Linked DNA regions of Homo sapiens. The protein of the gene in region 3 interacts with the protein of the main gene of each other region in a pairwise test. Each region holds a gene or a part of one and is shown on either strand. Other genes may lie near its edges.

What was found.
Region 1: the proteins of DESI1 (region 3) and KLRF1 interact in a two-hybrid assay, tested with the Homo sapiens proteins (one large-scale study listed by BioGRID).
Region 2: the proteins of DESI1 (region 3) and EVI2B interact in binary tests that used the Homo sapiens proteins (3 or more experiments, as listed by UniProt).
Region 4: the proteins of DESI1 (region 3) and SMIM21 interact in binary tests that used the Homo sapiens proteins (3 or more experiments, as listed by UniProt).
Region 5: the proteins of DESI1 (region 3) and UBQLNL interact in binary tests that used the Homo sapiens proteins (3 or more experiments, as listed by UniProt).
Region 6: the proteins of DESI1 (region 3) and GOLM1 interact in binary tests that used the Homo sapiens proteins (3 or more experiments, as listed by UniProt).
Region 7: the proteins of DESI1 (region 3) and FGF7 interact in a two-hybrid assay, tested with the Homo sapiens proteins (one large-scale study listed by BioGRID and IntAct).

What each region holds. Positions count from the first base shown.
Region 1 is NC_000012.12:9,833,981-9,837,480, reverse strand, and holds part of KLRF1 (killer cell lectin-like receptor subfamily F member 1), read right to left. Parts: intron 1-3,500. UniProt on the Homo sapiens protein: Functions as an activating receptor involved in immunosurveillance upon binding to various ligands displayed at the surface of myeloid cells.
Region 2 is NC_000017.11:31,304,055-31,307,554, reverse strand, and holds part of EVI2B (protein EVI2B precursor), read left to right. Parts: intron 1-1,924; 5' UTR 1,925-1,945; coding exon 1,946-3,292; 3' UTR 3,293-3,500. UniProt on the Homo sapiens protein: Required for granulocyte differentiation and functionality of hematopoietic progenitor cells through the control of cell cycle progression and survival of hematopoietic progenitor cells.
Region 3 is NC_000022.11:41,614,544-41,618,043, forward strand, and holds part of DESI1 (desumoylating isopeptidase 1), read right to left. Parts: intron 1-3,500. UniProt on the Homo sapiens protein: Protease which deconjugates SUMO1, SUMO2 and SUMO3 from some substrate proteins. Has isopeptidase but not SUMO-processing activity. Desumoylates ZBTB46. Collaborates with UBQLN4 in the export of ubiquitinated proteins from the nucleus to the cytoplasm.
Region 4 is NC_000018.10:75,424,904-75,429,026, forward strand, and holds the start of SMIM21 (small integral membrane protein 21), read right to left. Parts: upstream 2,801-4,123; 5' UTR 2,661-2,800; coding exon 2,532-2,660; intron 1,759-2,531; exon of another isoform or gene 1-1,758.
Region 5 is NC_000011.10:5,513,900-5,517,914, forward strand, and holds UBQLNL (ubiquilin-like protein), read right to left. Parts: upstream 2,801-4,015; 5' UTR 2,543-2,800; coding exon 1,115-2,542; 3' UTR 494-1,114; downstream 1-493.
Region 6 is NC_000009.12:86,037,059-86,040,558, forward strand, and holds part of GOLM1 (Golgi membrane protein 1), read right to left. Parts: intron 1-3,500.
Region 7 is NC_000015.10:49,421,908-49,426,041, reverse strand, and holds the start of FGF7 (fibroblast growth factor 7 precursor), read right to left. Parts: upstream 2,801-4,134; 5' UTR 2,602-2,800; intron 2,011-2,601; 5' UTR 1,745-2,010; coding exon 1,459-1,744; intron 1-1,458. UniProt on the Homo sapiens protein: Plays an important role in the regulation of embryonic development, cell proliferation and cell differentiation. Required for normal branching morphogenesis. Growth factor active on keratinocytes.

The DNA.
Region 1 (3,500 bases), on a different chromosome or scaffold from region 3:
TCACCTTTGGCTGACCTTTAAGCTCTGCACACACAAACATTGTGCATATCTATATTTACAGATATACATAAAACTATAAATATTTATAGATATAGAGATACATATAAATATATATGTATTTATAGATATAGAGATACATATAAGTATATATGTATCTATATTTATAGATATACATGCACAATGGACTATTATTCACCCATAAAAAGGAATAAAATGTGGATGAACTTTAAAAACATTATGCTAAGTGAAAGAAGCCCAAGGCCAAATATTGTGTGATTCTATTCCATGAAAATCCAGAATAGGTAAATCCATATAGACCGAAAGAAGATTTGTAGTTGTCAGAGGCTAAGGGGAGAGAGAATGGAGAGTGATTTGCTTGTTGGGTATGTAAGGGATTTATTTTTGGGAAAAGTTTTTCAACTAGATAAACATGGTAGTTCACAACGTTTGAAGGTTCTAAACATCATGAAATTGTTTACTTTTAAAGGTTCAAATTTTGAATTGTACCTCAGCTAAGAAAAGGAATAGGAAATAAATATATTGTAGCTCAATATACAGTATTTATACCTACTTTAATTAATGTTTACTGCCATGTACATGATTCCATGTTTACCTACCAAAGCCGCCTTAATTTTTCTAAGGTGTCATTGCAATGATACCCAACACAGTGACAGACATTACAGATAGGGAGACAATAAAATATGAGGTAAAGCTACAATATCTATTAGTTTGGGAAATATACCTGTAAAACAGACAGATAAGCCAAATGAAGACAGTGTCAATAAGTAGAACATAAAATATATAAAATTTTCACGTATGATAAAGGAGGAAATACGAACTAGTAGATTAGAAAAAAATCCTTTTATAATAATTATACATTTATCTGGAAAGTCATAATATATCATCTCATACAATAAAACAAATGTCAAAATGATCAGTTAAGTATCAAAAAGTTAAACTTAAAAGTAAAGAATAGAACTTCATCAGGGTGGAAGTATTGGAGGGTCCCCTGCCAGCAAAGATCACCTATCCACTCTAAGAGGGAGTTAAGACTGGCGGTTTGGGGATAGCACCAAGAGATATCAGCTGTGATGGCTTGGAAAAACAGTGTAAACCGGCAGTGTAAACAAGAGTAGGGCATTTATAAGTAGTTGAGAATGGTGAATAGGAGTATGACTAGACAGAAGATAGTAGGGATGACTAGTTTTTGGGGCTCGGTCCAAGTAGTGGGGGTAACTTCGTAAAGCCCTGTTGCAAAAAGTAGGGTAAGGACAAACAGACCTAATAGAATGAAGGGATCATTCCCATTCTTATGTCACCCTCTACCTCTCCCCAGCTATCTCCACCACACTACCAACGTTACTTATTCTCTCCTAGCCATTTCTAATCTCTCCTTATTGAACAACTGCTGGCTTTGCATTTCCCTTTCTTCCAGCGCCTACACAGCTGCCCCCACCTTACATGTAGACTGGGCAACATCTGTCTCCCTATACCTCTGAACTTCCTTTAACAGCCCTCACCTTTACCCTCCTGAAGAACTCATTTACTTTCTAGACAGGTCCAGCAAGACCTCCCCAGACATTTCATATCAGCAAGCTGCCGCCCTCCTCCACACTTACTTAAAAAACCTTTCTCCTTATATCAACTCTACTCCCCCCATATTTGGACCTCTCACAACACAAACTACTATTCCTATTCCTGTGGCCACTCCTTTATGTATCTCTCGGCAAAGACCCACTGGAATTCCCCTAGTAACCCTTCACCTTCTCCATGTTCCTTTACTCTTCATCTCCAAAGTCCAGCTATGCATGTCACCGAAACAATTGGAGCCTTCCAGCTCCGTATTACAGAAAAGCCCTCTATCAATACTGGCAAACTTAAAAATATTAGCAGTAATTATTGCTTAGGAAGACACTTACCCTGTATTTCACTCCATCCTCGGCTACCTTCCCCTTGCTCATCAGACCCTCCTCCCAGGCCCTCTTCTTGTTTACTTATACCCAGCCCCGAAAATAACAGTGAAAGGTAGCTCATAGACACTCAACATTTTCTCATATACCATGAAAATCGAACCTCCCCCTCTACGCAGTTACCCCACCAGTCCCCATTACAACCTCTGGTGGCTGCCGCCCTAGCTGGATCCCCAGGAGTCTGGGTACAAGACACCCCTTTCAGCACTCCTCATCTTTTTACTTTGCATCTCCAGTTTTGCCTCGCACAAGGTCTCTTCTTCCTCTGTGGATCCTCTACCTCCATGTGTCTACCTGCTAATTGGACAGGTACATGCACACTAGTTTTCCTTACTCCCAAAATTCAATTTGCAAATAGGACCGAAGAGCTCCCTGTTCCCCTCATGACACCAACACGACAAAAAAGAGTTATTCCACTAATTCCCTTGCTTGTTGGTTTAGGACTTTCTGCCTCCACTATTGCTCTCGGTACTGGAATAGGAGGCATTTCAACCTCTGTCACGACCTTCCATAGCCTCTCTAGTGTCTTCTCTGCTAGCATCACAGACATATCACAAACTTTATCAGTCCTCCAGGCCCAAGTTGACTCTTTAGCTGCAGTTATCCTCCAAAACCACCGAGGCCTTGACTTACTCACTGCTGAAAAAGGAGGACTCTGTATATTCTTAAATGAAGAGTGTTGTTTTTACCTAAATCAATCTGGCCTGGTGTATGACAACATAAGAAAACTCAAGGATAGGGTCCAAAAACTTGCCAACCAAGCAAGTAATTATGCTGAACGCCCTTGGACACTCTCTAATTGGATGTACTGGGTCCTCCCAATTCTTAGTCCTTTAATACCTATTTTTCTCCTTCTTTTATTCGGACCTTGTATCTGCCGTTTAGTTTCTCAATTCATCCAAAACCGTATCCAGGCCATCACCAATCATTCTATACAACAAATGCTCCTTCCAACAACCCCACAATATCACCCCTTACCACAAAATCCTCCTGCAAGTTGACCTCTCCCACTCTAGGTTCCCACGCCACACCTAATCCCGCTCGAAGAAGCCCTGAGAAACATCGCCCATTATCTCTCCATGCTACCCCCCGCACCCAAATTTTTTTTTCGCTGCCCCAACACTTCAATACTATTTTATGTTATTTTTCTTATTACTGTAAGAAGGCAGGACTGTCAGGCCTCTGAGCCCAAGCTAAGCCATCGCATCCCCTGTGACCTGAACGTATATACGCCCAGATGGCCTGAAGTAACTGAAGAATCACAAAAGAAGTGAAAATGGCTTGTTCCTGTCTTAACTGATGACATTCCACCATAAAAGAAGTGAAAATGGCCAGTCCTTGCCTTAACTGATGGCATTACCTTGTGAAAGTCCTTCTCCTGGCTCATCGTGGCTCAAAAAGCTCCCCCACTGAGCACCTTGTGACCCCCACTCCTGCCTGCCAGAGAATTACCCTCTTCGACTGTAATTTTCCTTTACCTACCCAAATCCTATAAAACGGCCTCACCCCTATCTCCCCTTCGCTGACTCT
Region 2 (3,500 bases), on a different chromosome or scaffold from region 3:
CCAAGTTTTAGCATCTACCACATCCCAGAAAAAGCCCTATCTGCCAAACTTTCATATGTGCCTTATTTTCCTGTGCCCACATTGTTGCTCTCCCTGGCTGGAAACTTAATTAGTTTTTATAGACTTTTAAAATTCAGTTCAAGCTTTACTTCACTGAAGCCTTTCCAGGCTAGGTTAACTTCTCTGTACATCTCCTGCATACTTTTATGAGAAAGCTTATCAAATTATTGTAATTGGGCCAGGCGTGGTGGCTCACACCTGTAATCCCAGCACTTTGGGAGGCCAAGGCAGGCAGATCACCTGAGGTCAGTTCTCGAGCAGCCTGGCCAACACGGTGAAACCCCGTCTGTGCTAAAAATACAAAAATAGGCCAGGCGTGGTGATGTGTACCTGTAATCCCAGCTACTTGGAGGCTGAGAGAGGAGAATCAGTTGAACCTGGGAAGCGGAATTTGCAGTGAGCCCAGATTGTGCCACTACACTCCAGCCTGGGTGACAGAGTAAGACTGTCTTGAAAAAAAAAAAATTATTGTAATTATTTTTTAGCTTTTTTTCTTTCTTCTTTTTATTTAGAGATGGGATCTTACTATGTGGTCCATGCTGTTCTTGAACTCCTGGCCTCAAACGATCCTCCCATCTTGGCTTCCCAAAGTGCTGGGATTACAGGAATGAGCCACTACGCCTGGCCTTTACTGTTTGCTTCTATCACTAGAATCTGAAACACTTAAAGGCAGTGACTATCTTTTTTTTTTTTTTTTAATCTCCTAAACCTAGAACAGAGCTCCACACAAATGTGGCATTTACCAATAGATGAATGAAAGCAGCAGCAGGACTACTTGACCAACTGGATTGAATTTACTCCACCAGATTCAGAGATCACTCTAGGATTTTAAGCCTAAGACTCTGAGTTGAATGAAATTCTTTAAAAATATGCAATATTAACATAAGGCTACCACGCTACAGAGACACTAAGGATGCTTCAAAGATTACTAATAGACTCTGTGCCTAAGAAACTTAGTGGTACCATTAACAGATACAGAGAAGTTGGGAGAAGAGTCAGTTGTCAGTTGTGAGGGTAAAGATGAACTCCATTTTAAATATGTTGAATTTGCTGATAGTGGGAGATATTTATATCTATATCTATGTCTATCTATCTATATATATAAAATATGGAAAAATCCACCAAGAAGTCACACAAATAGAATTAGGACAAAGAAGATGTAGGCTGGAGGTACAGGTTTAGGAATTGTGGCATAAAGCTGAGAACTAAAATCTTACAGAATCAGGAACAAAGAAAAGTAGGTAAGGGTGAGGACAGAATATCAATTAACCATATTTAGGAGGCAGAAGAAAAAGAGCTAGTGAGAGTAACATGAAAGGAAGACTGATTACAAAAAGCTACTTGAATATTAGTGAAGGAACAGTAGTGTCTAATGTGGTCAAGGAGGGGAGGGGAGAGAAGAAATAAAGAACAATTAGATTAGGTAACAGATGATCACTGGTGTTCTTCAAGGCAGGAGAATCAATATATTTCTAGTAGAAAATGGTGAAAAAAGGTAGAGAACACATGGATCCAGCATATAGAGCCTATGCGTTTTGAGAAGTATGACTAAGTGAAGTACTGAAATATAATGAAGCTAGAGGGGCAGCAGAGCCAAGTACAGAACTTGTATTAATAAAAGAAGAGAGATCACTGCTTATGAGGTCCAAATGCTGTATGATGGGTTAGAGTATATCCAAGAGTTGTTACACCAAACCTACAGTGTATCAAGTCTAAATTAGGAATAATAACTACTAATCAACTACTACTAATTAGGAATAATGTCTACCTACTTTATGCCAGGAATCATAATGAAAAGTCAAATTTTTAACTAGACACCAATGACGCCTAACTGTCTTTCTCTTTCATTATAAACCCGCTATAGATAACGAGGAAATATTCTGAAATGGATCCCAAATATTTCATCTTAATTTTGTTTTGTGGACACCTGAACAATACATTTTTTTCAAAGACAGAGACAATTACAACAGAGAAGCAGTCACAGCCTACCTTATTCACATCATCAATGTCACAGGTATTGGCTAATTCTCAAAACACAACAGGGAATCCTTTGGGTCAACCAACACAATTCAGCGACACTTTTTCTGGACAATCAATATCACCTGCCAAAGTCACTGCTGGACAACCAACACCAGCTGTCTATACCTCTTCTGAAAAACCAGAAGCACATACTTCTGCTGGACAACCACTTGCCTACAACACCAAACAACCAACACCAATAGCCAACACCTCCTCCCAGCAAGCCGTGTTCACCTCTGCCAGACAACTACCATCTGCCCGTACTTCTACCACACAACCACCAAAGTCATTTGTCTATACTTTTACTCAACAATCATCATCTGTCCAGATCCCTTCTAGAAAACAAATAACTGTTCATAATCCATCCACACAACCAACATCAACTGTCAAAAATTCACCTAGGAGTACACCAGGATTTATCTTAGATACTACCAGTAACAAACAAACCCCACAAAAAAACAATTATAATTCAATAGCTGCCATACTAATTGGTGTACTTCTGACTTCTATGTTGGTAGCTATAATCATCATTGTACTTTGGAAATGCTTAAGGAAACCAGTTTTAAATGATCAAAATTGGGCAGGTAGATCTCCATTTGCTGATGGAGAAACCCCTGACATTTGTATGGATAACATCAGAGAAAATGAAATATCCACAAAACGTACATCAATCATTTCACTTACACCCTGGAAACCAAGCAAAAGCACACTTTTAGCAGATGACTTAGAAATTAAGTTGTTTGAATCAAGTGAAAACATTGAAGACTCCAACAACCCCAAAACAGAGAAAATAAAAGATCAAGTAAATGGTACATCAGAAGATAGTGCTGATGGTTCAACAGTTGGAACTGCTGTTTCTTCTTCAGATGATGCAGATCTGCCTCCACCACCTCCCCTTCTGGATTTGGAAGGACAGGAAAGTAACCAATCTGACAAACCCACAATGACAATTGTATCTCCTCTTCCAAATGATTCTACTAGTCTCCCTCCATCTCTGGACTGTCTCAATCAAGACTGTGGAGATCATAAATCTGAGATAATACAATCATTTCCACCGCTTGACTCACTTAACTTGCCCCTGCCACCAGTAGATTTTATGAAAAACCAAGAAGATTCCAACCTTGAGATCCAGTGTCAGGAGTTCTCTATTCCTCCCAACTCTGATCAAGATCTTAATGAATCCCTGCCACCTCCACCTGCAGAACTGTTATAAATATTACAACTTGCTTTTTAGCTGATCTTCCATCCTCAAATGACTCTTTTTTCTTTATATGTTAACATATATAAAATGGCAACTGATAGTCAATTTTGATTTTTATTCAGGAACTATCTGAAATCTGCTCAGAGCCTATGTGCATAGATGAAACTTTTTTTTAAAAAAAGTTATTTAACAGTAATCTATTTACTAATTATAGTACCTA
Region 3 (3,500 bases):
AAGTAGCTGGGATTATAGGTGTGAGCTACTGTGCCCGGCCTACATCCTTTTTTTTTTTTGAGATGGAGTCTCACTCTATCACCCAGGCTGAAGTGCAGTGGCATGATCTCGGCTCACTGCAACCTCTGCCCTCCGAGTTCAAGCGATTCTCCTGCCTCAGCTTCCCGAGTAGCTGGGATTACAGGCATGCGCCACCGTGCCCAGTTAATTTTTGTATTTTTAGTAGAGATGGGGTTTCACTATCTTGGCCAGGCTGGTCTTAAACTCCTGACCTCAGGTGATCCACCCGCCTTGGCCTCCCAGAGTGCTGGGATTACAGGCATAAGCCACCTCACCCCACCTTGTTTTCTTCTTCTTTTTTTTTTTTTTAACAAAAAAGTTCCTTTTCACCTGTTTTCCACATGCATATCTGCAGAAGATTTCATTTCAAGGAAGAGTTTCACAGCTAAAGAGCATTTGAAAACCACTGGTCAGGCCACATGCAGTGGCTCACGCCTGTAATCCCAGCACTTTTGGAGGCTGAGGCGGGCGGATCACGAGGTCAGGAGATCAAGTCCATCCTGGCTAACATGGTGAAACCCCGTCTCTTCTAAAAAAAAATACAGGCCGGGCGCGGTGGCTCAAGCCTGTAATCCCAGCACTTCGGGAGGCCGAGGCGGGAGGATCACGAGGTCAGGAGATCGAGACCATCCCGGCTAACACGGTGAAACCCCGTCTCTACTAAAAATTAAAAAAAAAAAAAAAAAAAAAAAATTAGCCAGGCACGGTGGCGGGCGCCTGTAATCCCAGCTACTCAGCAGGCTGAGGCAGGAGAATGGCATGAACCTGGGAGGCACGCGCCACTGCACTCCAGCCTGGGCACACAACAAGACTCTGTCTCAAAAAAAAAAAGAAAATTTAAAAAAGCAGAATCACGCAGGGCCTTGTAAGCCATATTCCTTTCCATTTTGCCTTAAAGAAATTGAATGATTATTAAATTAATTCATTAGATGAGTATAAAACAGTTCACACAGTGAACAAAAATCAAAAACAAAGCACAATAGATGGCATTAAAACAGAAAAAACCTCTCTCAGATTTGAATAAATTTTACTTAATCTTCAAGCTTAAGTTCAAGTCTCAATCATTTCTATAATCAATACTTACTGAACACCTGCTCCAACAGGCCACTGGGGACATATAGGAAGGGGACAGAGTCCTTGCCCTCCAGGAGCTCCAGGCTCTTGCCAAAGCCTCTCTGACATGCTCAGCTCACCATGGCCTCTCTTATTTCAAAGCCTAACATAGTTCATGCACCACTCACTCACTTTGGCACCTAATCATAATCTGTTTTATATTGTTATCAAATGTTATATGTGTACATTCATTATTTAAAGGAAAATAATATTTTAAGAAAAACTCCTGGGCTGGGCATGGTGACTCATGCCTTACTTTGGGAGGGGGGTTTGTTCAGCATTTTGGGAAGCTAAGGTGGGTGGATCGCCTGAGATCAGGAGTTTGAGACCAGCCTGACCAACATGGTGGAACCCAGTCTCTATTAAAAATAGAAAAATTAGCTGGACATGGTGGCACATGTCTGTAATCCCAGCTCCTTGGGAGGCTGAGGCAGGAGAACTGCCTGAACCCAGGAGGCGGAGGTTGCAGTGAGCCGAGATCGTGTCATTACACTCCAGCCTGGGCAACAAGAGTGAAACTCTGCCTCAAAAAAAGAAAAATTCCTGGAGGACAGAGTTCACGTCATATCTTTTATTTCATTACTATTTGTACTACAAAATGAAGTAAAGAATTGAGTATAGTGTAAAATCTCTAATATTCATTAGAATTCATTCTGCCAAGCAATTTATATATTCTATGTCTCCAAATCTTTAAGTCTGAAAACAGTTTTGAAATGGGCTTGTAAAGAAAAATAAACGTGATGCATGTACACGAAACTTCTGATCAGAAAATAATAAACAAATATGAAGTACTTCTTACCACAATTAAAACACACACACACACACACACACACACACACACACACACACACTTCTGCATGTACTGTGGCACAAAAAGAGGTCAAGAAACTTAAAGAGCAGCCAAAATTATTAAGAGGAGGAACTGAAGGACACTTATAATAGCTAATTATTTTAGGCAATTGGTGACTATGAAAAAAGGTGCAATGAGGCTATCTGCTCAATTAGAATGCTGAAGATAATTTTGGGACCATTTTTCATAGTGAATGAAAAGCTATAGAACAGTAATGCCTTCACTTGAGGCAATTCCAGGAGGCTGAAAACAGGACAGGCTAAAACTACGGAATTTACATTGCTTCAGGAAAGGGGAATTACCTTGGGCTTTATCTAGTCTAATCCTGAACTGCGACAGAGCTAGATGAGGTCTCCCATTGGAGAACTGACATAACTGAAGCCTGAGAGGGTACTGCAGATGAGATCACATGGATTTAATTTGGGAAAATGGAGACTAAGAGGCATGATCATAAATCTAGATTGTAAGTGGCACATACACATTGAACCCAGCTTTTTTTCTCATCCAAACTTGAAACATTTGGCAAAGGATGCCTTTACAAACTTCAGGAAGGCATCTACTTTACTTCAATTTTAAAGGAACGTATTACACAGAGGTGGTATCTCAAAATGACAGAGAACGCGAGCTCTGGAAGTCAGACTGCCTGTGTTCATAACCCAGCTCTACCACCTAGTAGCTCTGGGACCTGGGGCAAATTCCTTAACACTCTACTTCTCAGGTTCTTCAATCAAGAAAATGGAGGCAATAACAGGACTTATCTCACAAAGTTGTGGTGAGGATTATAATGCACGCAAAGTACTCAGAAAAAAAGGGTCTGACACATGGTAAGCTCTCAATAAATAGTGGCTATTAATATACTTCTAGAATTCATCATAAAAATCAGGAAACAAATTGATTTTTTAAAGGTTCAAATGTATTTAGGAATGGGAAATCAATATATGGCTACTTATAGCACTGGGACATACCCAACTTCAAGATTTGTGTTGTCTGAATGGGATGAATCAGTAAGACCATGCCTATTTTCCTTAAGTGTTCAACTCTAGAAAGTAATGACTACTAGCTTTGCTAATTCTTTCTTCATTAATTTTGCAAAAGGTATAAAAGCAATATGGAAAAAAGAGGTAGAGAAGACAGAAGTAGATTAGCACACAAGGTGATTTCCTCAGATCAGAATCTGATGTGCCCAATGAATGGGTGATGTTCCCATGTTTGGCTGAGGCATTCCAGGACTTTACATCTATATAAAAGGGCGGGGAGTGGGAAGGGGGCAGGTCTATTACTCCATCTTCAGTTACAGCACTTTCCCCTTCACCCACTACACTCCACAAAAGCCTTCTTTCAGTTCCAGTATCAGGCCAGACTCTTTCCTGTCTCAGGGCTTTGGCAGGTTGATCTTTCTCCTACCTGGAACACTGTTACTCCCTTACTACCCTCCTGTGGCTACTTCTTCCTCATCCTAAATTCCCACTTTCAAAGT
Region 4 (4,123 bases), on a different chromosome or scaffold from region 3:
GCTTTTAAAGCTTCTGCTCAGATGTGCTGCACATCACACTCCTCACGCTGTTGTGGGCAAAGCAAGCCACAGGCCAAGCCTGGTAGTGGATCAGCTCCCTCAAGTCTCATGGCGATGGGCGAGTGTATCTGCTGTTACTGAGAAAAGAGAGGGGTAAATAGTTGTGACAGATGATACAAATGTGCACACCTCAGCTGACACAACTCCAGTGGAACAGGCTGTCTGTTGTACTGGAACCAATGTGAGCTTTTGGATTTTCGTCGTCTGTGCATGAGAGAGATTCCACTGGACACCAAGCTTATCCACAGCCTCCATCCAGAGATATCTGGATTTAATGAACACCCAGTCACTGCCTGCAAACAGGAGATACTGAGTTTCCAGTACATAAGAACTCCTAGATGCATGAATACCTAAGAAGAAATTAAATGTGAAGATCTGATCAGAAACATAGTGGAACCAGTGAACACTGGCCAAAAGAAAAAAAAAGTCCCATTCCACTGCCTGGACAATAGCAGGAAGGAATTCCTTATAGTTTCATGCCCTGTATTGGCTTTAGAGTCATTAATGAACAGTATCTATGTCGTATGATCCATGAAGTAGTGAGAATTGTTCACACCTGAAACCATTTTCCTACTGGCTACAGAAACGTTACCATCATATGATTTATTATTAAGTGTTGTTTTCCTTGTCAACATTTTGTGGTTTAACAGCCCACCTAAGTGTGAATCAGTTATCAACTGGCTTTCTTATTGAAAAGACAGACGAGGCTGCATGAAAATGCTTAGCACATGGGTAGGAAGCAGTGGATGAAAATAGCAGAAGTGGGACCCAGAAGATGAACTCTTTTACATTTGATTATTCAGATTATATGTAAGTTCCCATCCTGCTGAAATCTCTTCAGCAGCAAGTTAACCTCCAACCTAAGAAAGATGGAAGAAATCAAGAGTTGAAGATGGAGGGGACAGGGACAGTCTCTGTATCTGTGTGCTCCCTGAGGTGGGGGCCCCTGCCTCTCCCATCTTTGCACTCCTCATGCCTACTGTGTACCTGGTGCAGACCAGCTGCCCTGAAATGTTTGAGGTGCTGTGTTACCATTGCCTCTTTTGATTGCCCACCGAGTGCCTCCTGAGTCATGCACCCCATCACAGCCCTCACGCAAGGCCTGGAGACAAACCCAGCACACACCGGCCTAGTATTAATTCATAACCATCATCATGTACCTAAGATTCTACCTACCTGGATGTTGATTGATGAAATTTATAAAGTATTAGAAGGACTTCAAATCGACTTACAACTATCACATATGAAATGCACAAAACCAGCTTTTAAAGCCTTCTATAATTTGTTTAAGACTGAAGAACTTTAAGACCATTACTTTTATTTATTTATTTGTTTGTTTGTTTGTTTGTTTGTTTGTTTTTTGAGGGACAGAGTCTCGCTCTGTCACCCAGCCTGGAGTGCAGTGGCACAATCTCGGCTCACTGCAAGCTCTGCCTCCCGGGTTCACACCATTCTCCTGCCTCAGCCTCCCAAGTAGCTGGGACTACAAGTGCCCGCCACCACGACTGGCTAATTTTTTGTATTTCTAGTAGAGATGGGGTTTCACTGTGTTAGCCAGGATAGTATCAATCTCCTGACCTTGTGATCTCCTCGCCTCGGCCTCCCAAAGTGCTGAGATTACAGGCATGAGCCACTGCACCCGGCCCTAGACCATTACTTTTAAAATGTAAAAAAAAAAAAAAAAAAAAAAAAAAAAAAAAAAAAAAAATGGAAAAAGGAAAAGGAAATAAAGAAGCAGCAGTGGGGATCAAGACAGAGGAAGGAGATGCTACCTGCCTGCTCCCATCCATCTCCTCTTCACAGTCAGAAACACTAAGAGGAACCCTGTGCTACAGGAGAAGACATTCCAGAAATTTTGTCTTAGGACTTTAACCTTTCCGATATATGACTGGGTCATAAACTTCCTTTTCAGAAGCTATTGATCACCCCATCACCTCTGCAAATGGGGTGTCTATAAATGCCATCTGTTGCCTGCACATTGGCTACTGGTTCATGAATGGTTAAATTTGTTGCAACTTTTGCTTCTGTCCTGTAATGAAGGAAAAGAAACTTTCTTCTAGGAGTGCAGTATCAAATTTGTCTGGGTAGGTTGAGTTTGTAGGTGTTGCAGGTGCACCTAGGCTTAAAGCATTTGGAGGTATCCTTGCATCTGTGTTAAGAGGCTCTCTCTGTAGGGGAGAGATCATTGACTCATTGGCCTGTATACTGATGTAATGTCAAGGGGAGGGCCCAGTACCTTTTCTGAAAGGGGCAGCTCTTCCTCAGATTGGGAATTGGAATTGGGAGGTTGTCTTGGCCAGAACTGAGAAAGAAAGAGCTCTGGATTGACGTCTCATCTTAAACTTCGTAGAATCTGGATTTGAGAGACAGAGCACTCACAGGAGATTGGGGCAAAAGAGTGCTTTGTAGGACCATACCTGTGCAGTGATACGTCTCTCTCATAACCCAAAGTTAAAGACCCATAAACTCACTGTGGTAAGTGCTTTCTTCTGCAGCAAATTCCCCTTGAATATCCGTCCCATTCCTGCAGAGTCTTGTTTAAATGTTCCCAGCTGTGCTATAGGGAATCGGGGAGGAGCTGTGGACACATACTGGTCCATGTGGGGGCTGCGGCGGTGACCAGTGAGAGGTCTCCTTGATGACAGCGACTCTGAGGACACAGAGCTGGTGCTATAAGACCTGGTAACTAAGTTCCCAAGGAGCTTTTCTCTTCTTTGCCAACCTTGAAGATCTGGGTATTATTTTATGAAGCTGGATGGAATCTTCCCACATGTAGAGTTCTCAGGTCCAGGTATTATTTTATGAAGTCGGATGGAATCTTCCCGCACATGGAGTTCTGAGGTTTCTCAGGTTGCTCTCTGGCTCAGTGATGCTGTGTGAGAATGTTCAACCATATCTCCACAGCACAAGCTTTGGATCTGATGTCAAGAAGCTTTTGTGAATATTAAAAATGAACCGCATCTCCCTGAATCAAAATAAATACTACTATATGCACTTCAATGGAAATAAAATCTGGGATTCTTTTTGGGCCCTAAGCAAAATGTAGAAATTCATTTTCCCATCAGACTTTTCAGTAACTTTCTTTTAACCTAATGAGACACTCCACAGGAGACTAACATTTCTTTCGCTGAATTCCAAGTGTAGGTTTCCTGGGTTGTCCATTTAATTGTTAAAGTGAGAGAGATTCTGCTGGAAGACAAGCACCATGGAACAGCAGGAGGAAAGCTGAATGGAGGTTACTTGGGAGCTACCCCAGGAAGAAGCGCTGTGCAGACCATCATCGCAGGGTGGAGAGTAGCCATGAGACGTGTGTGGTGGCCTCTGGATGCTGCTGTGCTGCCTCATGGGAATTTTCACAGATCTTCCACTGTTTGTAAATGGTGCCCAATGAGCGGAAAATTAAGTGGTACTTAACACACACACGTTCACCAAATACTTGCAGCGTTATCCCCATAGTGTGGATGGCTTTTGACAAGGTGCCTGATGAAGAGAGATGCACATAGTTGTGAGTCCCAGCCTACAGAAGCTCATGATGGGTGCTCCACAGTGTTGGTGTTGAGTAAAAATGCCCAGGACAGTATGCACTGTGCTTGACGCACAGTATGACTAAGAAAATACCTGTTATTATGTGAACAGTGACCATATGCACAGCATACAAATCAGTAGCCCAGTGCTGTTCTGATGGTCTTGTCCTGAGTGGTTTTTCCCATCTAGTTGGAGACAAGACTCATTCTCTAGAAAGAAGAGCAAAAAATGGTGGGTCCCACCAAGGCCATGGACAAGGGAAAGGCAGAAACGTGCAGAGGGAGCAGAGACAGAGGAGGCTTGAGACCTGTGTGGAGGGACAGGAAGGGAGCTCGGAAGCCCGTTTTGTAGCAGATCCCAAATTGTGAAAGTTGATAGTTGTGGAGCACACATATGCAGAGTAACATCTAGAATTCTCAGAGTTGGTGATTTAAAGAAAAGAGAAAAAAAAAACACTGACTAAAAATTAATCTTCAATTTCCCACAGGCCTTAAACTTCCAGCTGCTAAAAGACAGTGGGGTGTAGGGGGTGGAAAGA
Region 5 (4,015 bases), on a different chromosome or scaffold from region 3:
TATTCCTGTTCCACTTTCAAACTTGAACAATTTGGGTTTGAGAAATTCAGGCAGTCTTTATGACTAAATATCTGGGCCTATCTATGTAAAATGTTTCCCTTTCTGTTTGAGCATGTTATGATTGTTTTCCCTACATATGGGTCTATTTATGTGTCTCTAGGTATTTGCATCTGTGTTTGCACATGGCTGTGTGTACTCATATGTGGACTCTATATGCCTGTATATGTGAATTTTTTACTATGTGAGCTTGTGTACATACACACACCTGTCCAAGGTGACATGCTCAAAATAATCAGTTTCATATACCATGCTCAAGTTTCATATACCATGCTCAAAATGCTCATGTTTTAGAGATAAAAACATTATTTTTATCTCTATATTAATATATGCATGTGGTTTGTGTGTTAATGTACATATAGTAGGTGAGACAAAAATCTCACACAGCTAGTTTTTTCTTTTTTTTTTTGCAAAAGAAGTAAAGCCAAACCTCAGATCGCAGCAAGTGAGTGTAGCCATTTTATTGACAGATGTTTCAGCCACGACCAATGATCTATTATTCAGTACAAGACACATTGGTTGATAACTCTTATTCCAGGACTTCTCCTGGCTGGAAGCATCAGGAAAGGTGCAAAAGGCAAATGAGATGGTCAGGTGGGTCAGCAGGCAGGTAGCAAGCAAACAAGTAGGCATGGTGGTTAGAATCTCTGGGATCTCTTGAGCTTGCGGATAGCAGCATTGGTGTCCCCTTCAGTAGCAATGAGTGCCTGTAGATTGGCATGGTGGTTCCCAAATCCCATGGCCTGGAGAGAATCCATCTGTTTGCTAAAACAAATCTCAGGAGCTTGCAGAGGGTGGGAAGGGTCCCCATCCGGGGATTGTAGCCTCTGCAGGACTGTTCCAGGCTTGTGGCAGCACTCAGGTCCCTTGGGCTCAGCTGTATCTGAAACATTCCAGGAACAGGGCACTGTGTCAGGATAGCTGCAGCTGGGGGCAGGAAGCCAACCCAGGCCCCATAGGTAGGGTGCAACCCAAGGCAGAAGAACAGGAGCCTCTGTGGCCAGCAGCTGGAGGGCCTGCTCAATCTGCAATATTGCTTGGAATGCTTTAGGGTTGCCTAAGCACTAAGCAGATCAGAAATCTGTGTCTGCTGCAGGAATGTGGGCAGCTGCTGCCTCCACTGTTCACTCAGCTGGGGCATACTTGTGAACAACATAATCTGAGCTGCCAGGTAGGGGTTGTTCATAAGCAACTGCATCATGCCTCCTGTGATCTGGGAGCTGCTCTGCTCATCTGACAGCTGGAGATCACCCTTTAATGTCTGTCTGGAGCTACTTAGAGAAACAGTGGCATCCTTGTATTCTTCTTGAAGCTGCTGGGTAAGCTCTATGCTAGGTAAGGCTGGTATCCAAGCTGGCTGCCGAGTGGCACAGATATGGCTCTGGCCCTTGGTGGAAATCATAGCAGTGTTGGCTTTGGAAGTGTGGTTGACCTTGTTAAGGGTGTCATTGGCTGAGGTGTTTGAAGAGAAACCACCAGAGCTATTATAGATGACTCGGGTTGCAGGATGCTGTGTGAGCTGGTCTTGTTGTTCCTGTGATGGTGGTGGAGGTGGGGGTGAAGACTGGACTTGTTCTAGCACTTGTCCTGCCAGGAGAGCTGTGAAAGGGTTTCCTCCAAAAGGATCTTGCATGCTGTTCAGCATTTGATCATTGATATCAGCATAGTTCTGACCCAGGGCATTATTCCCACCTGGCATTGTCTCTAAGCCCAGATATGGCTGTGGGTTCAGTGGATACTCAAGGTTTTGTGAAGGTTGTTGGATCTGCATTATCTCTTGGATCATAGCAAGGTTCCTGGCCAGCTCCAGAGTCTGCAATAGGATCTCAGAATTATCAAGAAGAAGGCGGGAAACTTCTGGGTTCTGCTGCATCAATTGTTGCGTGTCTAGATGTTCTGAAATGAACTGCCACATGAACTCCATGTTGGACAGAAGCCGCTGGATGCTAGGATTCTCCAGCATCTGTGCTTTGCACTCTGGGTGGCTCACTTCCAAGTTTTGGGTATGCACTTTGGGTGCATCAGACCCCACAAAGTGGGCCAGTTCCACTGGAGCTTGATTCATACCAGTTGGTTGGTGCACTCTGCTGCTGTTTCCTTTGGTGTTTCTGTCCCGGTGGCAGGGATCATTCGTTGGCAGGTCCCGGAAGGAATGGGCTAGAGATCTGGAGCCCTGCTTGGACTTGATGACCAAGTAGATGGTGTGGCCATCCATGATGCCCCTCTGGCTCAGTGTGTCATGGTCTTTGAGAAGGCAACCCATGAAGACCAGCACTAGTTGGTCCATCTGGCATTGGAAGTGAGCCAATAGCATCTCCTTGAACTGCCTTACCGAGATGTCATCAGCTACCATAAAGTCTTTCTGGTTGCCTGCAGTCTTCACTATCACTCGAGTGGCACTTGAAGAGATATTTTTGTCTGCCAGCAGACCTGATGGACATCCACTCTGGGACATCCTGGATGTTCGAGAGATGGCATGCCACATGGGCTTTAGTGGGTGGGCAGATGGGGAGCAGGTGGAAGCTGGGGCAGAAAGGGTGAGGGCAGACAAATGTTTCTGCTGGCCTTTGTCTCAGGTATTGTGCTCTCAGGCCACAGGATAGTTTCCTTGTTGCCCTAAAAGGGATGAGTGACCAGACTGGGGCCAGATATTTTGTGATGTTGTGCCCTCACCCCAGTTCTCCAGATGTGGCCCAGCTGAGGCCTGGCATAGCTACTGATTCATAATTCACCCATGGTGGACAAAGTGGTGATGACTTCTCCTAGGGCTACCCCTCCTCCTACCCCACCCACCAGGGGCATGAATCCTCAGAAAAGGGATATTGTGATGTCAACTCTATCCTCGCAGTCACCCTGGGCCAGCTGGGGAAGGAGGACATATTTAGGGGTCCAGGGCTCTACAATAAAATAAAATAATTTTCCAGAAAACAGGGACAAAGTTCTCTGGATGGAACTAGTAAGAAAACAAAAAAGTAAATAAAAACCATATTTTTAAATGTGGGATGTGTGTTTCCGTGTGATACTGTGTGTATGTTCCTTATAGGGATGTTAGACTTGTATGAAAAGTTGGGTCTACTGAAGCCATAGATAAAGCCACATTCCTATAAGAATGCAGTCTCTCCCATAGGAAGGAGCGCATTAATTTTTTTAATGATCTGGAAATTTGGGTCTTATATAGAGTCTAGATTTTGGGATTCTATATTTAATTGTGCTCCCATGTGGTGGGGAAAATTTTCCTCTGTCCTAGGAAGCAGGAGTAGGGCTAACCAGGAAGGCTCTTCATAGGCACATGCCAAACTAAATGTGAATTAGCTCTTTTTTATAATATGCCTTTTATTCACATATCACTTGGTCTCTTCTACATGTCAATATAACAGAAGTTTTAGAATGATTTGTTTCAATGTCCTAACCCACTCTTGTGTGCCCACCTTTATGTCAAAGCATTAAGGGGGAATGTCGTCTGTAAATCAAGAGGTGGGAGAGGAGGTGGTTAGTAGTAAAATTCTTAAGGGGACAAATACAGGCAACTAAAAAGCTGGATTCTTGGTCCCATGTAAATTTGGAGAATTGTGTTTGGTTTTTATTTAGATGCAGATGGAAATAATTATTTATATGAGTGAGAGTGTACATGTCTTATCGAATGTATATATGAAATTGTATGCATATTCTGTGTTACTAGGAAGCCTTCAGGGTCTGGATTTTATATATTCCATCCACCTGCCTGGAGAGGGAGGAGCACCACACAGATAGCTAAGGAACAAGCAAAAAGCTCGAGCCCATATGTTCCCAGTGTGTTGAAGACAAGCAAAGGGATGATAGGCCGTTGGCCAGGAGACCTTCTGCTATCAAACCAATGATTCTTTATTGAGAATATCTAGACCCCCAGCACCATCCATGTCAGATCCTCATCATGCTATAAGGCCAGTTGCTAACTTACTACAGCAAGACTCAGGCCTAT
Region 6 (3,500 bases), on a different chromosome or scaffold from region 3:
AATTAAACAACACACTCCTAAATAACCAGTGAGTCCAACAATAAACCACAACACAAATTAGAAAATGCTTGGACAGCCAGGCGCGGTGGCGCACACCTGTAATCCCAGCACTTTGGGAGGCCGAGGCAGGCAGATCACCAGAGGTCAGAAGTTTGAGACCAGCCTTGCCAACATGGTGAAACCCCATCTCTACTAAAAATACAAAAATTAGCCAGGTGTGGTGGCAGGCACCTGTGATTCCAGCTACTTGGGAGGTGAGGCAAGGAGGTGATTTCCAGCTGAGGCAGGAAAATCGCTTGAACCTGGGAGGTGGAGGTTGCAGTGAGCCAAGATCATGCCATTGCATTCCAGCCTGGGGCGACAGAGCGAGACTGTCTCTCAAAAAAAAAAAAAAAAAAAAGAAAATGCTTTGCCACAAAACAAAAACACAGCATACCAAAACTTATGGGAAGCAGCTCCAGCAGTGCTTAGAAGAAATGTACACCTTCAAGCATCTGTATTAGAAGACTTCCAGTTTTCTGTTCCTCACGTGAGAAGCTTAAAAGTCACCACTTAGTCCTAACAAGTAAAAAACTAAACAGACTGAAAAGTTATCAGCTCTTCTTGGATCCATAGGAGAGGTGAGGACAGAGTGTAAATCACTGTCCTTAAGCCTGGAGACAGACAGCCCAATACAGAGAGTCCCGGCTCACCAGGACAGGCTTGGGCAGACATCACCACGGGAACTGGTGTCAGGGTGGGAGAGCCTGACCCTGTCATTTATGAACTGTTTGAGGCTCAGTGTGGATGAGTCTGAGAGTTAAAAACCTGCCCCAGCCAGGCGTGGTGGCTAATGCCTGTAATGCCAGTACTTTGGGAGGCTGAGACGGGCTGATCACCTGAGGTCGGGAGTTCAAGACCAGCTTGACCAACATGGAGAAACCCCGATATACTAAAAAATACAAAATTAGCCAGGTGTGGTAGCGCATGCCTGTAATCCCAGCTACTCGGGAGGCTGAGGCAGGAGAATTGCTTCAACCCGGGAGGCAGAGGTTGTGGTGAGCCAAGATTGCGCCATTGCACTCCAGCCTGGGCGATAAAAGCAAAACTCCAACACCAAAAGAAAAAAAAAAAAAAGAAAAAGAAAAAACCTGCCCCAGTCATAAGGGACTCCCATACTTATGAGTTTTACCCCTAGGAGCTCAACCAGGCTCTCAGTGAATATTAGAGAAAGGCTCTCAGTGAACATCAGAGAAAAATCGGCTTGTGCTTCCAGCAGTGTGGCGGGGAAAGGAACCATTCTGAAACAGGCCAGAGTGCTCTATTCTCCTTAACCAGGCCGGCCCTCACGAGGAGCGCATTACCCAGAGCTCCTGCGGGCATATTATCTGAGCCTAACTGACCTGGGGGAATGAAACACCCAACTCCAGTAAGCTCTAGACTTCCACGTGGGAGAAGGAAGCTACTCAACTCCAGCCCATTCCAGCCACTTTGTCCCACTGGGGTAGGGAGTGGGTACTGAAGAGAAGCATAGGGGACATTCACAGCCAAGGGACTCAGGCTCACTAAAACACTCAGGCTCACTAAAAACCCTCATACTTACAGCACACTGATTTCTGACAAAGGTGCCAAGACAATTCAGTGGGGGAAAAGCAGTCTTTCTTTCAACAAGTGATTACTGAGACAACTTGATAACCGCACACACACAAGAATGAAGTGGGAGCTCTACCTCACACCATATGCAATAATTAAATTAACTGAAAATGAATCACAGGCTTAAACGTAAGAACTAAGAACGATAAAACTCTGAGAAGAAAATGTAACAGTAAATCTTCAAGATCTTGGGTCAGGCAAAGTGTTACTAGATATAATACCAAGAACACACAACAAAAGAAAAAATAAATAAAATGGGGATTTTGTCAAAATTAAGAACTTCTGTGCTTCAACTAAACACCAGCAAGAAAGTGAAAAACCCCACAGAATTGGGAAAAAAAACTTGCAAATCATATATCCATTATCATATATCTTTAATAAAATAGATTTTAAAAACTCTTACAATTCAATAATAAAAATAACTCAATTAAAAAATGAGCAAAGGACCCAAATAGACATTTCTTCAAAGAAGATATACAAATGGCCAATGAAACATGTGAAAAGATGCTGAATATCATCAGGGATATCACAGTTATTAGGGAAATGCAAACCCAAACAACGAGCTGCCACTCCACACCTGCTAGGAAGGGTATCATGAAAAAGGTAGTATCAAGAGTTGGCAAGGATGTGAAGAAACTGGAGCCCTCATAAACTACTGGTGGCAGTCGAAAATGGTATGGCCACTTTGGAAGAAGTCTGGGAGTTCCTCAATAGGTTAAATATAGATTACCATATAACCCAGCAGTTCCACTCCTAGGTATTAACCAAGAGAAATGAAAACATATGACCACACAAAAGCTTCATGTTCATACGGCATTATTCATAATAGCCAAAACATGGAAACACTCCAAATGCCCATCAACTGATGATGAATAATCCACATGTGGTCTATCCACAGGATGGATTAATCAGCCATTAAAGGGAATGCAGTACAGACACATGCTGCAACCCCGATGAGCCCTGAGGTATTCATACTCAGTCAAAGATACCAGACAGTCCGGGCGTGGTGGCTCACGCCTGTAATCCCAGCACTTTGGGAGGCCGAGGTGGGTGGATCACTTGAGGTCAGCCGTTCAAGACCAGCCTGGCCAACATGATGAAACCCCGTCTCTACTAAAAATACAAAAATTAGCCAGGTGTGGTGGTGGGTGCCTGTAATCCCAGCTACTCGGGAGGCTGAGGCAGGAGAATCGCTTGAACCTGGGAGGCAGAGGCTGCAGTGAGCTGAGATCGCGCCACTGCACTCTGGCCTGGGTGAGAGAGCGAGATGCCCTCTCAAAAAAAAAAAAAAAAAGTCAGACACAAAAGGCCACACATATATGATTCTATTGACAGGAAATTGTCCAGATTAGGCAAATCAAGAGACACAAAGTACATTAGCAGTTGGCTGTCTAGGGCTGTGGGGACTGAAGAGAGAACTAAGGGATACACGGTTTCTTTTGTGCCAATAAAAATGTTCTGAAATTGACTGTGGTGATGGCTGCATAACTTTGTGAATATACTCAGAACCCATGAATTGTAAATTTTCTATGGGTGAATCATAGGGAATGCAAATTATATCTTAATAAAGCTGCTATATTTTTAAAAAACTACTCAAAGATCACCCAGAAGGCTTCAAGCAGCAGCTTCGTGGGCTGTGCTCTGCACAGGAGGTGGAATGACAGCACGAGACATGGAGTCGGCCAGACCTGAGGTCTTGATGGGCTCTACCACTGACCAGGTGGTGTGACACTGGCCACAGAACTTAACCCCTCCCATGGGGCTGGGGTCCTCAAGTCAGGAAAACAGCAACTCTCTCCCAGGCTGGCTGCGAGCTTTAAATACGATAATTCCCGTAAAGCCCTGAGCTTGTGAAGCGGGGCTGGAGG
Region 7 (4,134 bases), on a different chromosome or scaffold from region 3:
TATCCATGATAATATATAATATTGTTATTATATCCATGATATTATCCATGATAAATCTGAGCAACTTTTAAATAAATTAATTATAAGCCAAATTCTGTTGCTTATATAGAAGTAGATATCAAAAAAATTTTCTCCAAATAGTCATTTCCTTAGATAAACTTTAGTATAATAAGAATGATCTTCTAGAACTAACATGATACCTTTATTAATCTCAGTAATAATAATAAATAATAATAATAAAACCATAACTGTCCAGTCATTAAAATGGCCTTAACATTCTATATCAATTATGGTTAAAAAGAAGGTCTTCTCATTTTCATATTGGAAACATAATTCTCTGAAATTCCCATTGATTGGTTGATTAGTTCAGAACCCTAAAAGTCATTCAGTAAACAGGCAACAAAAGTTTGAGTAATTGCTGCAAGCCTGGCACTGTGATTTGCACATGTTTACACCAGTCTCCCCATGCATTCTTTTTCAAATGACTTTAAAACAATTAATATGAAATTATATATTAATAACAATGTTTTCTGAGTGCTAGTAATGTAAACAAAATTTATTTTTACTAAGTATTTTAAATCCTTAATGTACATGTTGAGGTGTGTATCTTATTCCATTACATTTAATACTATTGAAGTTGGTTATTCATCATAACCATTAAATGCAAAACACAACCCTGATATTTTAACATAAGAAGAATAACTGATTCTTGGGAAAAATGTAAGGCTTTAAATTGAAAAACATGGAATTACCATCTCTTCCAGCCCACTTTTTTCCCCTCACCTTTACATTTTTCTTAAGATAGCACAGAACTTTTATGACATAAAAGATTTAGTTAAGGAAAACGTTAGGAGAGATCTGTTTTTCTGCCTAAGTTGATAAGTCATCAACTTAATACAAGCTCATTATGACTCAAATGAATAAGGATACCACAGATTCCCTTCTATTTTATCATTATACACAATTGCAAAGGAATGCATATCTTAGCACAGATTAAGTATTTTAATTTACATCATGAAAATATTATTTCAAAGAAAATCAAATTAATAAAAATAATTTCCCTACTCTTTAAACTAGTGATAAATAGCTTTTAGTGATAATTTATGAAGTTCTAAATTAGATATCTTAATGAGTTTTGCTTAGACAATATTAAGTCACATTTTGGTGTGAATAATATTATTTACATTTTGCTTAACTTATGAGCATTTTCAGGACAAGGAGTATATATTTTCAAATTGGCTTGGATTATCAGGTCCAACTATAATGTAAGTAGATTTGCCCTGTTAAAAGAGATATTTTTAGGGGCATAGTTCAACATAGTTCAATTTAGAGAAATTAGGTGACATTTTATTTAATTTTTTTTCCAAGAAGCAAAAGGAAGATGAGAAAACATATCACCTGAAAATTGATCCATTAACAGATTGCTAAGGTTCATGAGCAGTACTTAAAATTACTTACTGTAATTATTCTTCATCTCTTGGGTCCCTTTTACTTTGCCTCTTTTATCGATCCTCAGGTACCACTGTGTTCGACAGAAGAGTCTTCTCACTCTTATATCCCCTCCTTCCATGTAATCATAACTTCTTGTGTGTCGCTCAGGGCTGGAACAGTTCACATTTGTAGCCATTTGCTCTGGAGTCATGTCATTGCAAGCTAAAGATATAGTACCCACTAGACAGATAATGTGAAAGCATGATCTGTAGAGCAAAGTTGGCAGGATCCATGTCAGTATCCATTTGTGCATTATAGTGTAGTGCTCCGGGTGTTCATGAATAACATAATGAAAATGAATCTTGAGTTGATTGTTACTCCTAGGTCATTGACCTCTTCCTATCTGTGAATTGTAGATTGATTTAAGAAAGAGTAGTTGCTCTTTCCAAATTGTTAGCCTTATCCTTTTAGTTCCTGATAACAACACAGGATTCCTCCTTAAATAACTCTGTTGATAAATCCTCATAAAAACAGTTCGTAGTAAGTTCAGTTGCTGTGACGCTGTTTGCTATTTGACTTCTGTTTGCAATGAGAGATTAAGAATAGGGAGGGGAGGAGAGAGGAAGATAAAAAATTGTATGTGTAAATTTTAGTGGGTAAGTAGTAGCATTAGAATACAGTATAGGTTATTCTTTGAAGATACATTTAAAACAGCCTTCACAGAGGATGTCAAAATCTTTACCACTTTATGTGTAGATTTATAAAATTTATGCATGAGTAGAGACAAAACAGAATATGACTGTACCATTCATTCCAATTGCTATTTTGTGAGAACCATACTGCACTCAGAACTATTGATTTAAATTAAGTTTTTACAATTACTGCTAACAAAGTGTAACTGCTTTCTCCCTAGACTTCTTTATTATATGCTTTTACATTTGTGGTTAATCAATTATTTTCTCCTGAACTGCCCAGGTTTTTTAAGTTAAATGTCAGGATTGCTCTGGAGAACTTCAACCTTATCTTTATGTTCTACAGCATAATTACTATAGTTACATGGCTCAAAAATCTTGTAACTTTACTTTCCTGCTCAGTACTAAAATCAGAAAAAGAGATAAACTTTTAGAAAACATTCAGCATTGTTTTAAAAGACAAATAACAGTAACTTACTTGTTTTGTTGCTAACAGCTGGATATATAAGAATTCCATGTCTGTTGTCTGCCTGGTGCAACTTGAGCCTTTCTACTGTAGCTACAAACTATTTCTCAGCTGAAAAGTTCTCCAGCAGAATCATAATTGTTTCCATAAATCAACAGGCAGAAGGATTTTCTCTCTGTGTGTGAGCGCGTGTGTGCTTGTGTGTGTGTGTGAGCCTTTTATTCAGGGCTTTTCGATAAATACCTTTGCTGACCTCATTGGAAGCAATTAAAACTTAGCCAGTGAGCTGTTAGTTGAATACAACAGCGAGAATAAAAGGAGGCTTGTATAGTATTCAATGGTCATGAGAGGGAGCTATGAACATGTTTTATGCTTAAATCTACAAGTGGGTACCTACTTTGTAGAAACAGATCTCTGGTTCTGAAGCAGTTAGAAGGGGAAAGGGAATTTTTTAAACCTTCTTTGCAATATAGCAGTTGTATTATACTTGGAAAATTATTCATTTGAACATATATATAGGGTTTTTTAATACTTAGAAAATCTTTTCCATAGCTTTATGATACATGCATTTCTTCAATTACTTCTTTGTGCTCAGAATGTTAGAACAAAACTGGTATGTGTTAACTAACATATGAGTGCCTTAAAGCACTGTGTAGATAAGTTGAATATTATCACATCATACAGAGACAATTCATTGAATATGAATATAAGTACAATTTTTATGTATTATATTCCTAGGCTGAAAGTGAGAAGATCTAGATTCTTATTTGTGTTGGACCACTAATGACCAGTATGACTTCGGGCAAGTTACCTGCTGTTCCAGAGTCTCAGCTGCTACATTTGTAAAATTGGTGTATTGGTCTAATGCCTCTATGGTGCTTTACAATTCTGTGATCTGTGACTTATACTCACTACTAATATAAGGAACAGGGCACCTACTTTTAAAAGCTGTTATTCTTTAAAAAGGAGGAAATGGTTTCACATTGATTATCAGTGTTTGATTTTTGCCTCAATAAGAATATTGGAACAATAAATGTTAATTTAGAGATGGAATTATAATATGTATTGCTAAGGTAAATAAGTGAAAGCTATTTTACTTTCCAGCATGAGTTCTCTCCTTTACTTCCTGTTCTGTTATACATGAAGTAGTGCTCAAGTGTTGTATTAGATTCTTGGTGTAGAATAATTGTGTTGTCTATCTAAATCAGTATTAAGAAAGTATATTAAAATTATCTTTTTCATGTTATATACTCCTCAAAACACACACGCGTGCACGCGCGCGCGCGCGCACACACACACACACACACTCTCTCTCTCTCTCTCTCTCTCTCTATGTGAAATGCACTACTTTACCACCAGGTGGTGCATGTAGACCAAATAGGAAAAGGAAATTAAATCTACTCAACTGGATTATAGTTTATGTGATTTCTCTTTGTATCTGTCCCTTTAGGGAACAGAATGAAGAGCACAGAATAGTTCAGATGTACCCAGTTACTCTTCATATGCCAAATGTTGAATGTTCCACATTTATTAAAGCAGAGGGGG